2 separate regions of the Homo sapiens genome follow, and region 1 is linked to region 2. The links come from fine-mapping of genetic effects on gene expression. A gene starts in region 2. The other region holds a variant in brackets. All regions are shown on one strand. Distances are from middle to middle. Region 1 overlaps ACER2 (alkaline ceramidase 2). Region 2 holds the start of ACER2 (alkaline ceramidase 2).

Evidence for each region. PIP is the estimated chance that this variant, and not a neighbour inherited with it, causes the effect.
Region 1: its variant is fine-mapped to the expression of ACER2 in nasal epithelium (TOPMed, PIP 0.96).

The regions. Positions count from the first base shown.
Region 1 is chr9:19,443,376-19,451,742 of GRCh38, reverse strand. ACER2 (alkaline ceramidase 2) reads right to left here. Exons shown (of 6, transcript NM_001010887.3): 5 at 5,325-5,462; 6 at 1-1,293. The coding sequence ends at 1,107. Among named protein-coding and RNA genes, the nearest start is that of MAP1LC3BP1, 16 kb to the left of the region's middle. RefSeq lists enhancers at 4,800-5,546, 4,485-5,684. The variant G/A (reference allele first, on the strand shown) is at 3,862.
Region 2 is chr9:19,404,862-19,413,579 of GRCh38, reverse strand. It overlaps ACER2 (alkaline ceramidase 2), which reads right to left and starts at 4,571. Exons shown (of 6, transcript NM_001010887.3): 1 at 4,388-4,571. The coding sequence starts at 4,495. RefSeq lists enhancers at 4,326-4,475, 3,888-4,743, 4,744-5,601 and a silencer at 4,576-4,865.

The DNA.
Region 1 (8,367 bases), 38 kb before region 2:
ACCACAATTGTGAGGAGCCCTTTGGTAAACTTACAGAGGTCAAGTCTTAAAGATGGTGGGTCTGTGGGAATGTTCATGCCATAATTCTTCTTCTCTGTAGATTTGAGGCTGCTGAGCTGGGGTGGGAGGGGGAAGAGGAAGTGATGTCAGTATTTAAAAATTGTGCTCAGTATTTAAAAATTGTGCTCATCTTCAAGAAGGGCCTAAAGTGGAGTGTAGGTTTTGGCAGAGAGGGTTTTACTCATTAGCTTCACGTTTATCTGAAGTCTCTCCATCTCTCCACAGAGGTAGTAGTAAAAGGATTCACAGATGCATGTAAAACCTGGGTTAGTTGAGAAATGCAAGTGAAAAACTAGCCTTTTTAGCCACAAGTCCTGTGTGTGTTTCATCTGTTTGGTTTTGTTTAAGGACAATTACCCCAAAGGAAAATCTCTGGCATCTTCCATCACAGAGTCAGAGGGTCTTGTCTCTCAGAGGGTCTGTCTGTCATCAGTAGAGTCCACTCCAAGGGCGCCTGGGAATGGTGGGGTCTGGAGCAGGCCAGCTTTCTCCAGGAAGAGATGCATTGTACAGGGCTGGATCCCCCAAGGGACTGCTCTGCCATGGCCATTAAGGACGCAGCCCAACAAGTCACTGCATCTGGAAGTGATGCTGAGAAAGATGCATCTAGTGTCCCTAAGCCCTCCATTTTCCATCTTTGGGAAAGGAATAGACACTTTTCCCCTTGTACAGTGGAATCCAGGTGGTCCACAGACACATTAGGGAGGAGGAGGGGACCTTTTTAAAAATTACACAAAATCCAGAAATCCTAAAGAAAAGATTAACAGATGTGACAACATGAAAGTTTAAAACCAGTATGGCACAAAAATATTAACATACTGAAAGACAAATGGGAAACTGCAGGGGGGCAGGGAATATTTGTACCATATGACAAAGTTTAAATCCCTACATACAAAGAACACTAAAGAAATTAAGAGCCCCAGCAAATAGATTTTTGAAAAGATAGCCCACACCCCAACTATTCGAACTCCCTTGGCTGTCTTCCTAGCAAAGGAAGCCCACTGCATGAGGGGCGATAAGCAGAGAAGCCAGCCACCATCTTGCCATCACGTGATCTTGACTGATGATTTCTTGTTGGCACACAGGAGGGACACATAGGGGACACCAATGAAGGCCCATTTCTCATTGGGCCAGAACTTGATGACAGGGCCTTGCTCAGGAATCTCTGAGGCAGCATCAAAGTAGGCAAAGCATACACAGCCCAGGTAGGCAGCAAGGCAGATGAGGATGTGCCTGCAGAGGGAGACAAGAGGTGAGAACCTGATGAGCATGAAGACTCCGCTGCCCTGAGTTTAGCCTGCTCCTTCTTCCGGTCTAACCCACGCACCTTGCTGACTGTAGTTGCAGCCCAGGGGCCTCTTCTAATTAGGAAAGGATGAAGATTACCAACAATCCCTGGAATAGCAGGATGATAAATCTTCAGCAATTTGGGACCCGTTTTAGAATGTTCTTAAATAGTCCTGCTGGATAATAGGAACAAATGTGCAAATAAATGCCTTTGGGCCTCAAACAAGAAGACTGAGGCCCAAGGATTTACAACAGAGATGCTAAGATGGAAGTAACTGAGCACATCTGATTAGAACCCACCTTCTCACTTTAACAACTGGTTACAGATATTTTATGTCCTTCATCAGGAATAATTTTATGTTGGTTAAACCACTTTTGCAGTTTAGTGGAAATTTTAAAAAATTTATCCTCACTGTACCTGTACAAAGTTTTAAATTTATATTAAACTTTATCGAACAATAGACCATTTAAAAGCATGTAATCCTTTTTTTTTTTTTTTTTTTTTAAATGAAGTCTCACCCTGTCATCCAGGCTGGAGTGCAATGGTGCAATCTCGGCTCACTGCAACCTCTGCCTCCTGGGTTCAAGCAATTCTCCTGCCTCAGCCTCCCAAGTAGCTGGGATTACAGGCACCCACCACCAGGCCCACCTAGCTAATTTTTGTATTTTTAGTAGAGAGGGAGGGGGTTTCACCATGTTGGCCAGGCTGGTCTTGAACTCCTGACCTCAGGTAATCCACCTGCCTCGGCCTCCCAAAGTGCTGGGATTACAGTCGTAAGCCACTGCGCCCAGCCCAAAGACAATATTTTTATAAACTTTGATGTTGGGGAGGAGGGGATCTTTTTAAAAATTACACAAAATCCAGAAATCCTATAGAAAAGATTAACAGATGTGACAATATGAAAGTTTAAAACCAGTATGGCACAAAAATATTAATATACTGAAAGACAAATGAGAAACTGCAGGGGGGCAGGGAATATTTGTACCATATGACAAAGTTTAAATCCCTACATACAAAGAACACTAAAGAAATTAATCAGGGTCAGGGTGGGAAGTAGGTGAGAATGGTATGAACCAGATTGGCCTCGTGTTGATAGTTATGGAATCTGGGTGTTGCCTATATGGGGGTTCAATGTATTATTCTCTGTACTTGTGAAAATGTTGCAAATATGCATAAGTGGCACATAGTTACGTAGCTAGTAATGACTGTCTACTATGTGCCAAGCCTAGATGCTGAATATAAACTGTTTTATTTTTTATTTTTTGGAGACGGGGTCTCACTCTGTTGCTCAGGCTAGAGTACAGTGGCACAATCTCAGCTCACTTCAATCTCCGCCTCCCAGGTTCAAACGATTCTCCTGCCTCAACCTCCCAAATAGCTGGGACTACATGCACATCCGGCTAATTTTTTGCATTTTTAGTAGAGACGGGGTTTCACCGTGTTAGCCAGGATGGTCTCGATCTCCTGACCTGGTGATCCACCTGCCTCGGCCTCCCAAAGTGCTGAGATTACGGGCGTGAGCCACCACGCCCGGCTGATATGAACTTTTAAAAATAGAAACACTCAATAGACCAGACAAAGAAAATTAAAAGGGGAAATACACATCACAAATTGACATTTGAAAAGATGCCCAACAAAAATACTAATTTTTTAAAAAGACATAATAATAAAAACAAAATATAATTTTTCTCAAACAGGTTAATGGAGATTTAAGAGTTTCCAGTATATGTGAAAGTGTGGGTAAAAAATGCTCTCTTACAGACTTCAGTAAACAGTGTTAATGGTACAGTTTCTCTGGATTTAGCAATATATAATATTAATTTAACATATGAAAATATTCAGAAACTCAAATCAATCTAGATGTTCATTATAAAGTGTTTGCAAAAGTGGAAAATTAGAAATAACCTCAAAGTCCGTTATCAGAGAGAGGTTGGTTAAATAAATTATAAAGTGTCCATATTATGAAGCATTTATTAGACACAAAAATGAAGATTATATATATGTATTGGTATGGAATGATGTCTGTATAGCATTAGATCTATGTAGTATAGATTTAAGTATTTGGTTAAAAAAAAAGTTTGGGCCAGGCTCAATGGCTCATGCCTGTAATCCCAGCACTTTGGGAGCCCAAGGCAGGTGGACCTGCTCGAGCCCAGGAGTTTCTGACTAGCCTGGGCAACATGGCAAAAATCCATCTCTACAAAAAAATTCAAAATAAATTAGCCTGGCACAGTGGCATGCACCTGTAGTCCCAGCTCCCTGCAGGGGGTGAGGTGGGAGAATCACTTTCAGTCCGGGAGGCAGAGATTGCAGTGAGCCAAGATCACCCCACTGCACTCCAGCCTGGGCAACAGAGTGAGACTTTGTCTCAAAAAAAAAAAAAAAAAAAAGTTTGCATCGTGTATAGAATGATGCTATTTTTTTTAAAAGTAGACATATATATGTGTGCGTGTGTGTGTACATATAAAATCTCAATGGATATACATCAGACTGTTAATAATTATGTTTCTTTG[G/A]GGGATAGAATTATGAGAGCCATTCTTTCTATACTTCTATGTTGTTTAAATTTGTTATAAAAAATATGTCATTTTATAACTGGAAAGAAAATATGGTTCAACTTTGAAAAACAAAGCAGAAATATACCAAATTCAGAAACACATTAAGTTTGAGTCAAAATTATTACATAGTTTAAATTTCGAATTTGACTTAAATCATGTGTGACAGGGGACTTAGATAAAAATGACCATCTTGAATGAGGTCATATTTACCTAGTGTATACATTTCTCAAAATTCACAATATACACTTAAAATCTGTACATTTTGTTATCTGGAAATTATAACCCAACAAATATATAAACTATATAAATTCACTAGTATTAGTTGAGTTGAATCTAAAAAATATCGAGCAATGGATCCTAAGACGGTAAACTCCAACTTGTGCTGTTTGAATTTTGTCTTTTACAAACACTCCTTGAAGTCCCCAAGTCTTAAATTTAGAGTAGGGTGGGTCTCATAGCAAATATATCAAAGTTCACATGAGCAAGGGAACTTAAGTGAATTCTATCAAATTGTATATTTTTAGCCTATCTCTGGATAGAAGTCAACCTTTTCCTGAATCTAGATCTAACAAAGTTTTTCCATTTCTTCACCACTAGAATTCCTCTCTGGGTTCCTCCTACCTATAGGGGATAACCTACAGCAGATTTCTCCTCCTTGTGATCTTTTGCAATCAGAAGTCCTGGAGGACAGAAAGGAAAGATCACTCTGGGTTTGAGGCTGAAGCAGTTCCTAGGAAGAAAGCCACTCCAATTTCCCCCAGCTTTCTCAGAATCGGATTCTGCATGTATTTTGTAACCCGCTTTTTTTTTTTTAACTTAGTGTATCCTGAGCATTCCAAAGTATAGACGCTCCAATGTGCTATTACTGAACTCCAAGGTTGTTTTCTACAGAAACAGGTGGGTGACATTAAACAATTCACTTTAGCTCTCTGGTCTTCTGTCCCCACTTATAGAAATAATGGAAGAGAATGTCTCTAAATGGCCAGTGCGGCCCCTCCTTGCACTTGGTCTCTCAGGCCCTAAAGGTGGGGTTCCCACTGAGGACCCTCCCAGCCCTCACATCACCTCTTTCCCCAGCTTTCCCCTACCTCTCCCCTCCCCCAACACCTAGCTAGAGCTCAGGTTACAGGTTCAGTTCTCAAGCTCCTTTAGGCTTTAATAATGGAGTTAGAGGTAAAAGACTGCAGACCTAAGCATGACAATCAGGCCTTTCGTTCCGGCTAAGCCTGCTCCCTGGAGTCAATTCAGCTTTTTACAAAGTGTGCTTTCAGTGGCTTCTGAACCATCTGACCGTCCACCTGAGGAGAGAAGCAAGCCAGCAACCCACAGGACACCTGTGCACCACTTGCAGGGTGAACAGAGCCCAACAGCAAGTGCAAACACACCTGTCCCCGGCCACCTCCCCATTAGCAGGGGCTTACCACATGCAGTGCAGGTAGGGGAAGTTGAAGGATGACAGCAGCTCGCAGAAAGCTCGGTCACTGATCCAGCAGAACAGGGCCAGGGTCCACCAGAGGCCCGAGAAGAGGCCCAGCTTAAACACACGCATGTTGTCACACCTGCACGGGGGTCCAGAGAGTCACTCATCGTCAGACCTTGTCTCCACCTCCTTGCTGGCCACCTTTCCTGTGTCTCCTTCGCTGGTTCCTCTCATGCCTACAACCCCAAGACACTGAAGTTCTTACCCAACACACAGTCACTCCACAGTCTCATGGATGTAAATACCATATGTACACAGATGGCTCACAGACACCCTTCCCACCCAGGCTTCTCTCCTGACTCCAGACTCATACACCCAACTACATTTTTGACACGAGCACCCTAATATGGATCTAAATTTAACAAGTCCATAACCTATTCTTCTCCCAATCTTTCTCCTTCTCACATAGCCCACATCTAGTCCATCAGCTCTCCCTTCAAAATATCTCAAACCTGACCTCTTTCCACCACCTCCATCTAGATCCATGCTACCGCCATCTCATCAGAGTCTCCTTCCACCCTTGCCCCTACAGCCAATTTAACAGCCTCCAGCATCTTCCTGTTTAACCAGAGGGAAAGCCAAAGTATTCACAGTGGCCACAAGGCCCCGGATGCATGATCTTCCCTTTTCCCCTTCACCTCCTCTCGTGTGTACTCTTCCCTCTCACTGCCCATACTCAAGCCACTGCAGGATTTGTGCTGTTCCACAAATATCCCAAGCATGCTCCTGCAAGACCATAGCACTCACTGTGCCCTCTTGCCTGGAATGCTCTTCCCTCACATGTAAATCTTTGCTCAAATGTCACTCAGTAAGCCTTTTCCTGATGCTATTTTTAACAATTTCAACACCTGTCTCCACCTCCCAGGTGACTCTCCCTAAGGCCTCCTTCCCTCCTTTAATTTTCTAGGTAGTGATTATAACCTCCCTGACACCCTCTGTGTTTCACTTATGTGTTTCCAGTGTGTGTTTATCCACTGACATGGAATCTGTTTACTGCTGTATCCCAGCACCTGGAAATGTGCCAGACACAGAAGGCACTCAACATGTGTTGAATGAAGGAATAACTTCTTACACACACTGGGACAAAATGGTTTTCTGAAAAAAATGCTAACAGCTCAATGAAAATTTCAATTGCCGTCTTCTTTCCTTGACAAAGACTTGCTCATAAAGTGGGTGAGTTCTACCCCTGGGGACGAACACCTGGGGGCAGCTGGTGGCTGAGCGTCCTTCTTCCCGGAGGGGACCACTCCTGGGTCAGTCAAGATCTCCTATGGGACCCAGAATACAACACGACATCTGCAATTGAGAAGAAGCTTAATTCCTCTTTGTTGAACCCACAGACAGGTGTTAAAAGCCTGACTGGCTAGTGCCCTTCCCAGATGCCTTTCACAAACATCAGCGAAAGCATCAATAAAAGTGGGACAGGTTCAGAAAGACCTGTTCAAAAACAAATCAAAATACTCTTGTAGGAAGGCTAAATACATCCCTTGAAAAGTTTTTAGAAAGAATAGAGGCCGATGACATGGGGAGACTTACATTCCCAGTTACTAAAACAAAGAGATAACAATTTCCATTTCTCGCTTTCGATTACCACTCTCTACCTTGAATGCCTCGCCTTTGGGCTGGTTCCCTCTCAAAAAGAGCTCATCTCTCACCTTGACCCACCCTCTCCTTCTCTCCAGGGCTCAGTCTCCAGGCTTCTTCCCACACACAATGCCAGATACTATAGGTCTCCCCTCAGTGCAAGCTCGTCCACAACCGTGGCCCACAGGCTGCATGCCGACCAGGATGGTTTCGAATGAGGCCCAACACAAATTTGTAAACTTTCTTAAAACATTATGAGATTTTATGCCGGGCGCGGTGGCTCAAGCCTGTAATTCCAGCACTTTGGGAGGCCGAGGCGGGCGGACCAGAGGTCAGGAGATCGAGACCATCCTGGCTAATCCGGTGAAACCTCGTCTCTACTAAAAATACAAAAAAATTAGTCGGGCGTGGTGGCGGGCGCCTGTAGTCCCAGCTACTCGGGAGGCTGAGGCAGGAGAATGGCGTGAACCCGGGAGGCGGAGCTTGCAGTGAGCCGAGATCGCGCCACTGCACTCCAGCCCAGGGGACAGAGCAAGACTCCGTCTCAAAAAAAAAAAACCATTATGAGATTTTTTTTTTTTGCGACTTTCTTTTTTTTTTTCTTTTCTTTTTTTTTTTTTTAGCTCATCAGCTATCATTAGTGTATTTTTTGTGTGGCCTAAGACAATTTTTCTTCCAATATGGCCCAGGGAAACCAAAAGAGCGGACACCCCTGCCTTAGCGCATTCTCTCAGGGCACCCTGCCATGTTCCTTCATAACTCTCATCACAAGTTGAAACTATGAATTTATTATCTGTGTAACATCTGGTATTAAACTAGCCTAGAGGCCGGGAGCTCACCCCTGTAATCCCAGCACTTTGGGAGGCCAAGGTGGGAGGATCACTTGAGATCAGGAGTTGGAGATCAGCCTGGCCAATGTGGTGATATCCCGTCTCTACCAAAAATACAAAAATTAGCCGGGGGTGGTGGCACATGCCTGTAATCCCAGCTACTTGGGAGGCTGAGGCAGGAGAATCACTTGAACCCAGATTGTGGAGGTTGCAGAGAGCTGAGATCGCACCACTGCTCCAGCCTGAGCTTCAAGAGCAAGACTCCATCTCAATAAACAAACAAACAAACAAACAAACTAGCCTAGAATCCCAGAGGAACTACCCCTGTTTTATTCACTAATGTATACTCCATGCCTGGCAACTGTGCCAGGCACTGTTAAATGCTTCCTGAATTAATGGATAAAATTATGCATAAATGGACCCTAATTTGGTAATTTGTAATTTGGGCAGAACATTATTTTTAGATTATTTAAGATTATTGGCCAGGCACGGTGGCTCATGCCTGTAATCCCAACACTCTTGGAGGCCAAGGCCGGGGGATCACGAGGTCAGGAGATCAAGACCATCCTG
Region 2 (8,718 bases):
CACCCAGGCTGGAATGCAGTGGCCTCATCTTGGCTCACTGCAACCTCCACCTCCCAGGTTCAAGCAATTCTCCTGCCTCAGCCTCCCTAGTAGCTGGGACTACAGGCACACACCACCACACTTGGCTAGTTTTTTGTATTTTTGGTAAAGATGGGGTTTCGCCGTGTTGGCCAGGCTGGTCTCAAACTCCTGACCTCAAGTGATCCTCCCACTTCAGCCTCCCAAAGTGCTGGGATTACAGGCGTGAGCCACCGCGCCCAGCCAGGGGGTCTTAAATCTTAAAACATAAAAAGGAACTCAATTAATAAAATTTGTATATAGAAGAAACAGTATAAAATGTGCACAAGTAAAAGGCTGTGAAAGGAAATTACATGTTCATGGAAGAGATATTAGGCTTGGCTGAAGCAAAGGATGATACAATTTGAGGCAACAGAAATTTGCAGAGGCCAAAGCAAAATGTTTTGTATGCCCAAACATTGTCAGTGGAAGTCAAATCAGTGCACTCTCTTTAGTGTGCCATTTCACAATAATTATCAGCATTTAAACTGAATATCCTCCTTGACACAGCAATCCCCATCTAAGATTAGTGCTTGCGAAAGTACATCCAGATGCATGAATGAGGATATTCACTGAATCACTGTTCAAAAACCAAAATGAAAACAATAAAACAGAGAGAAACTATATGAAATGTCCATCAATAAGGATTGATTAGATAAATAAATTATGATCAATCCATTAAAGGGAGTACTGTATAAACATTATAAACAGGAAGAGAGCACTATATGAGCTGATATGGAAATATCTCCAAGACATATTAAGTGAAAAACACAAGGTACATAAGAGTTTACACAGTACCATCTTGGAAAAAAACTTCAAGTATTCGTGATTACGCCATACATGCTGGTTTTTTTTTTTTTTTTTTTGAGACAGAATCTTGCTCTGTTGCCCAGGCTAGAGTGTGCAGTGGCGCGATCTCAGCTTACTGCAACCTTCACCTCCCAGGTTCAAGCTATTCTTCTGCCTCAGCCTCCTGAGTAGCGGGGACTTACAGGCACGCACCACCACAACCAGCTAAATTTTTGTATTTTTAGTAGAGATGAGGTTTCACCATGTTGGCCAGGTTGGTCTCAAACTCCTGACCTCAAATGATCTGCCTGCCTCAGCCTCCCAAAGTGCTGAGATTACAGGCATGAGCCACTGCCCCCAGCCTTATACATGCGTATTTTATATGCACACAGATACATGTGCTTTTTATATGCCTAGAAAATATCTAGAAAGATACAGAAGGTTATTTTTCACTCTACAACTTACATACTCTAAATTTTTTACCATGATCATATTACTTTTACAATAAACAGTAATTTTACAAACTACTTTAAATAAACTTTTTTCCTATCAAAAAGTATGAGTTTTATCCTAGAGATAAAATGATCCCAAGACAGGAGTTTTAAGTTATGGAATGACTAAATAATAAATATCTATTCTATGCCAAATAGATAAATCTAAGTTAGTTACAGTGGCACTTATAGCTTCAAGATAACTCTCTTGGTAGAGTCAAATGGACCAAGTTCTGACTTCAGCTGTGCTATGCTCTTGACCACAGCAAGTTACATAAACTCTCTAGGCCCCAATTTCCATCTTTATCAAATGGATATAATAAATAGCACCCATTGTCTAGAATGAGTATACAGTACCCAGCAGAGCTTCAACACATAGCAATTAAGTAATGGTAGACAGTAGTATCTGAAGGTGTAGTAGTGATGTGCTACCCCTAAGACCCATTAAGAAGGTTCTAGATCCCTCTCCCGGTCTTCTCCTGATTTAACATTGTCAATTCCTCCAACTTTTTCTCAAAACTGGTAATGATTATGAGTTTCCTATAAACTGGGTAATTAGACCTGTTGCCTTATTATGAGGATTTAAGACGATATTTATCACCACATAACAGTCTACTGTCTTTCTCAACACAGGAGTAAGATAAGCATGGGAATGTCCTGTGATAAGCATCAAAATATAAGTAGTACGTAAGAACACAGGGGAAGAAGGCCGGGCATGGTGACTCACGCCTGTAATCCCAGCACTTTGGGAGGATCGCTTGAACCTGGAGGTGGAGGTCGCAGTGAGCCAAGATCGCACCACAGCACTCAAGCCTGGAACAGAGCATGATCATCTCAAAAAAAAATTTTTTTAAATAGCAACAGAGGGGAAGAAACGTTTTTTGCTAAATTCTTTGGACCTACACTCAACAAAGTTAGGCAATGACCTTATTCTCTGACACCTTACGCTCTCTGCTTTGCCAGAGCAAATTTTGTGGTTTATGAGTATTCCAAGGAATAAAGTTTGTCAGATGGGCCAGCTGGGCTCATCAGCCAGACAATGCAGCTGAAGATCAACAGTTAGTTTCTGAAAAAGACTTTAGCACTCACTACATAGAGTAACGGCTCCAATGGGACTAGATTAAAAGTAAAGACAAACTCTCCCTTTCATCCAGCCCTATGACACTTTTCAAGACAGACTCAGAGAAGCCATACACTAGCTTTTTTGGCCAAAATAACCAAGGTTGACCCTCTCTGTAGACCCCAGGCTGCACAGAGAATAATCTTGCTAAGTGTGTGAGAACCTGTCATCAAGCTGTCTTTTCTTCTTGAACTCTGGTGAAATCCTTACTCTTTCACTATATTCTTTATTTACAAAAGGACAGCTTGTGTTACCACTGGTGTTTCTCCTTATTGAAAGTACCCAGAACTACTCCAGCCCATCCTCTGTGTGCAACTATTTACCCCTGACAGCATGCTCTGGGAGGTTATGCAATACATAAGTCATGGCCACTTCCACTGTCTTTCACAGTATCTGTGGTCAGCAGAGGGCCAGGTTTTCTTTGAGACCCTGTTGCCCAGGCTGGAGTGGAGTGGCGCGATCTCAGTTCATTGCAGCCTTCAACTCCCAGGCTCAGGTGATCCTCCCACCTCAGCTTCCCAAGTAGCTGGGACGACAAGTGTGTGCCACATGTCCAGCTAATTTTTGTATTTTTTTGTAGAGATGAGGTTTCGCCATGTTGCCCAGGTTGGTCTCGAACTCCTGGATTCAAGCGATCCACCTGCCTTGGCCTCCCAAAGTGCTAGGAATACAGGTGTGAGCCACAACGCCCAGCCTTAGGTTTTCTTAAGGAACCAACCTAATCATAAAAAAAGGAGCAGGAGTGTTTGTGTGGAAGCCAGCCATGGATTTCAGCACTGAGGGAAGGAAGGGCCCAGACTTCTGGATTGTGGCCCCAGCCATGCCAGAAATGTGAGCATGACAGCTCCCTCCTCAAGAGCCCAGTTTTCTCATCAGATGAATAAAAGGACAGGGACTAGATCATCTGAGATTCCTGCAGGCAGTAAGCACCTGACTCCTGCTGAAGACATTCTCTCTAGCAAATCCAAAAGGAAAAGTCCTAAACAACAACCTCAAATTCACAATGACCCAAACCAGGAGTTCCTGTTTCCCTTGTTTGGGCGGTGAAAAGATAAGCCACAGAAATGACCACGCAAAGTCTCACATTCTGTACCAGGATTCTGAGCCATGGACATACACAAAATAAGAGGCATTTCCTCTCCCAGCTGCAACCCTTCCCTACCACAAGAACTAAAATCACACAGGATTCTGCAATGGGGAAGTTTCTGCTCACCCTTATCTAGGGACCTAGGCAAATCCAAAACCCGCACATTATCACTCCCAAACTTTCCTTTCATCCCTCAGACTTCAGAACTGGAGAAAGCACAGTCCTGGGGGAGTTGAATTAGCGGCTTGCACAAGACAGGACACTAAAGGCAAGAAAAAAAAACAAGTAGTAATTAACTTGATTCTGACCAAAAATAACTCGACCATTATAGGCATGTTCTTGGGGGTGGGGCAAGTCTGCCTGGTGGGAGTGACCCCAGCCGCGGGGACCTGCGGGGGGCGTGCTCTTCCCAGCACTCCGAGAGCAGGTATTCAGGGCAAAAAAGCACAATGCGACCCAAGTGCGTCACGCCACAGAGATCCCAGGGGAGGAAGAGACTTGTCCCGGCAGGTTCACCGCCCCCAGCTGACCCAAACAAGGAGAATGGGCTGACACAGACCCCTGGTTCCTGGACGCGTGGGGGCCAAACAAGACAATAGGACCATCACAAAACAAATGACAGCAGGAGGAAGATGAGCCCAGCTGTCGGGAATGGGGACAGGAGAGGAGGACAGATGGAGAACTGAAAGGAGCGCGCCGAGGAGGGGGTGTGGACTGACTCAGCCCCTGGAGAGAATGCCCCCAGATGCGCGCAGAGACCCACGTCCAGCTTCCAGACGCTGCGGCGCGGGAACAGCCCCCTCCCGCTGGCCCGCCTGCCTTCCCCGCTCCCGCGCCCCGCACCGTGTTGTAGAACTCGGCGATAGCAGGCACGATGGTGTAGTTGTCCTCGCACCAGTCCACCTCCGAGCTACCAGCCTGCAGCTGGTCCCACCAGTGCGGGGCGCCCATGGCCACTCCGGGGCATTGGAGCAGCTGCTCGCGCAGCTGAGAAGAGCCCAGAGCTGCTGCGGAGGCAAAACGCGGCGACAGCCAGCGGCGAAAGCGGCTTTATGAAGCACCGGGTAACCGCCGGATGTGCGCCTCCCAACTGGCCTCCCGCGCTCCGCCCCGCCTCGCCTCGCCTGCGGGAGGTTACTCGTTCGCAGACCCTCCCCGGCCCCTCCCCCTGGAAGCCACGCCCACCGTGGGGCGGGACCCGCGTGGAGGAGGGGTCCAGGGTGGGGCGCCTGGAGGCGGAGACCGGGCTCCAGACTCTTCCAGACTACCCAGCACCCGGCAGGTGGCCAGGGCCTCGATGGTGCTACCCACGCCTGCCCACGCCCATCTCCTGGCTCAGACTCGCAGCCTCCCCCGATTGAAGGAGCGCCAGAACTCTCCCTGGAAAAAAATTTAAAATAAAAAGAAACCCGGGAGGACCTGGACCTCTCTGGACCCAGAGTTTGCAGCGATTTTGCTGCGTCCGGCGTTGGACGCCAGTGCTTACACCAGAGAAGTGCCCTCAGTCCCTCCGAGGCCGGACGCCACTCGCTGCGGTCACTGTGGCAGGAAGACCTTCCCGGCTGCTGGAGCAGGTTGGGCCGCCCAGTCCCCGGGGGAGCACTTCTATTTAGAGTACGTTCCTGCCCTCCCTCCCCTTGGCTCCAGCGTTAAGGCTTAATCTAGCCTTCGATATGGGGACTTAGGCAAAGGGTCAAACGTCAGCCATCCCAAACTGCAGAGGATGTAGTGTGGCAGTTATGACATCTCCAAGATATCGAGGTTCAAGAGGTGATAGATAACATACACATGCCAGGTGCTGTCTGAAGAGTTTCCATGTATCACTCATTTAGTGTGCCCAGCAGAGACCCTGTGAGGGGCTTCTATTAGCAAGTGACAGAGCTGGAAATTCAATTCAGGCAAGATGTCCTCAGATCCAGTCATAACTACCTTCTTTTGCTTCTGTAACTGTTCTGCGGTTTGTAAATGAAAGCCAATCTGGTTCCCAGGATCCCTAGAGGAAAGCCACCCTCTGTGTGTATGTGGTGGCTCCCGTTCTCCTTCCTTGAAAGGTTGTAGGATTCTAGGTCAGGACAGCGGCAGAAGAGGCCCTGGGCAGCAGCCCATTGGTGACTGTCATTAGGACGTCTTGCTCGGACCCGCAGGGTATCCTAAAGGCCAGCAACTCCCCAGGGTCTGCCCTCTCTCTGGGCCTGACTGCCCAGCAGGACCCTGGGTGGTGCTTCAGTGTCCTCTGCACCAAGTGTTTGTCTGCCCACCAGTACCCACACAGCCATGTGCAAGTCCCCAGAGATCTCCATCACTGACAAAAACTGCAAGCCCCGCCGCCTCTCCTAGTCTCTAGAAAATCCAGGTTTGTCCCCCAGGGGCCAAACCACACTCCTCCTTTCATCTTTGTCCCAACCTCTATCCCTTCCTCCTGCTTTACGGGCAATTCCACTGCCCTCCAGAACCCAAGTAGAAGATACACTCTTACCTTCCCCTAGGGTTGATTTACCCAGACCTACAGGATACCCGGAGTGAGCTGGCCACCTAAGAAAGGCGGTTGAGGGCCGGGCGCGGTGGCTCATGCCTGTAATCCCAGCACTTTGGGAGGCCGAGGCAGGCGGATCACGAGGTCAGGAGATGGAGACCATCCTGGCTAACATGGTGAAACCCCGTCTCTACTTAAAAAAAGAATACAAAAAATTACCCGGGCGTCGTGGCGGGCGCCTGTAGTCCCAGCTACGCAGGAGGCTGAGGCAGGAGAATTGCGTGAACCCGGGAAGCGGAGCTTGCAGTGAGCCGAGATCGCGCCACTGCACTCCAGCCTGGGTGACAGAGCGAGATTCCATCTCAAAAACGAAGGGCGGTTGGGGTGGATGTTTCCCACAGCCACAGAAGAAAGATACATCAGTTAATTTCTGTGTCTCAAAATGCTACACCAACTGTTCAGCAATAGAATTTTCCCTGTAGTCAATATTTTACTTCTTCCAACAACAGTTTACTTGGAAATATATCCATATTCATCAAAATATAATGGTATTTTTAAAAAACCATTATTTTATATGCCAGAGATTCTCAAAGTGTGGTTCCTCCCTTTCTTTTCATTTTCATTCTCTTACCAGTGTACATTGGAACTTCCCAGAGGATACATGATGTGTGATGTCATTATCTCTCCGACAGCTAATGGAATATGTGCTTGTGATTCTTTGGTATTAAAAGTCTGTTTAAATTTCTAATGCGGTAACTATTGATGTTACCATATAAACCACAAGTTCTCTGGTGTTCTCAATATTTTTTAAGAGTGTAAAGGGGTCCTCAGACTAAAAAGATTGAAAGTTGCTGTTAAAAAGATGTTCCTGGCCGGATGCAGTGGCTCATGCCTGTAATCCCAGCACTTTGGGAGGCCAAAGCAGGCAGCTCTTCTGAGGTCTGGAGTTCGGGACCAGCCTGGTGAACTTGGCAAAACCCCGTCTCTATTAAAATACAAAAATTAGCAGGGCATGATGGTGGGCACCTCCAGCTATGCGGGAGGCTGAGGCAGAAGAATCGCTTGAACCCAGGGGGCAGAGGTTGCAGTGAGCCAAGATCGCGCCGCTGCACTCCAGCTTGGGCAACAGAGCGAGACTCCATCTCAAAAAAAAAAAAAAAAAAAAGAAATATTTCCAATTAAACTATTTGTAATACTTTTTTATCATTTAGAATTTTTAGTGAACAAGCACAGACTTAGACTTACATTGTTATCATACATCTCTTGTGCATACCTAAGAAGGAAGGTATAAGCAAAAATAAATTCATTAAAGAATTCCTGTAATTTCTTTACATTCAGAATCTCTGTTCTTCTGAGTCATTTTTCAGCTTATAGTCATTGATGTCTGTGTCATTCATATAGAAATGTCCTCTGTGTCCTTAATTACTATGTGCTAATAATGCAGCATTTCTTAAAACTATTCCACTACTGTTTTCTTGCAAACTACTGACACCTGTTTTACAAATTTTGATGCTGGGACTCTCCTGATCTTACCTGAAGGTGTCAGTGGAAGGTTTCCAGACAACAGGCAGCATGTTTCTTTTCCAGATGGTCCTTATATAATCTGTTGAGAGAAACATGGAGATTACAGTTGCCAAGTCATCCCACCAGGAATAACCACCAAGTCTGTACATATGCAGGCAGTGACACCACATCACAACCATGACCTAGCCAACCATAATCATAAAATGCCATTCTTGGTAAAATGCATCAGGATTTCAGAGATTTAACAACGCAAAACAATGTGAGTTTTAGCACCAGTGAAATATTAAATTTGCTGAATGTAATTCATCCTTCTTTCCAAGTCTTGCTAAGGGAATGATGGGAGTTTTTCATCCTCCACAGTAACTCTTATTGTCAGTGACAATTGTAGTTCAAAATCAGTCAGCCACATTGGTTCCTTCTAATTACAACTGCACAGAAACCGTACTTGAGTCACACTGTCTCTAAAATTTTGTTTTCATAGCTCTCCCCATTGTTAACATTGTTAACTTTTTTTTTTTTTTTTGAGACAGGGTAACCCTCTGTTACCCTGGTTGGTGTGCAATGGTGCAATTTCAGCTCACTGCAACCTTGACCCCCCCACCCCAGACTCAAGCGACCCTCCCACCTCAGCCTCATGAGTAGCTAGGACCACAAGGGTGCACCACAATGCCCAGCTAAATGTTGTATGTTTTGTAGAGACAAGGTTTCATCATGTTGCCCAGGCTGGTCTCAAACTCCCAGGTTCAAGTGATCCCTTGAGCCTCCCAAAGTGCTAGGATTATAGGAGTGAGCCATTGCATCCAGCCAACATTTTTAAAATAAATACAACATTGGTAATTTAACAAGAGGGCCTATCAGGAGGTTATAAATTTTAAAATTGATTTATATTAATTGCATGATGCCTTAGAAACTACTGCTAGTGGTTGAATACAAAATTCTGATGTCTACTCTAAACTAAGTTTGTTGAGGGAAGGATGCAGTGACAGCAAGGAACAGAACTACTGAGTTCCAACTATTTGGCTTACGATGCTTTTGGCCTACATGACTCAGTGATACAGATCCACAAGGGAGCAAGTTTGAAGGAACAGCCCTTGCAAGGAATTCAGAATGACAGCACCTTCTATTTTTACATAGTGTATAACAATGTTTATTTGGTATAAGTAAATATCTGATAGTA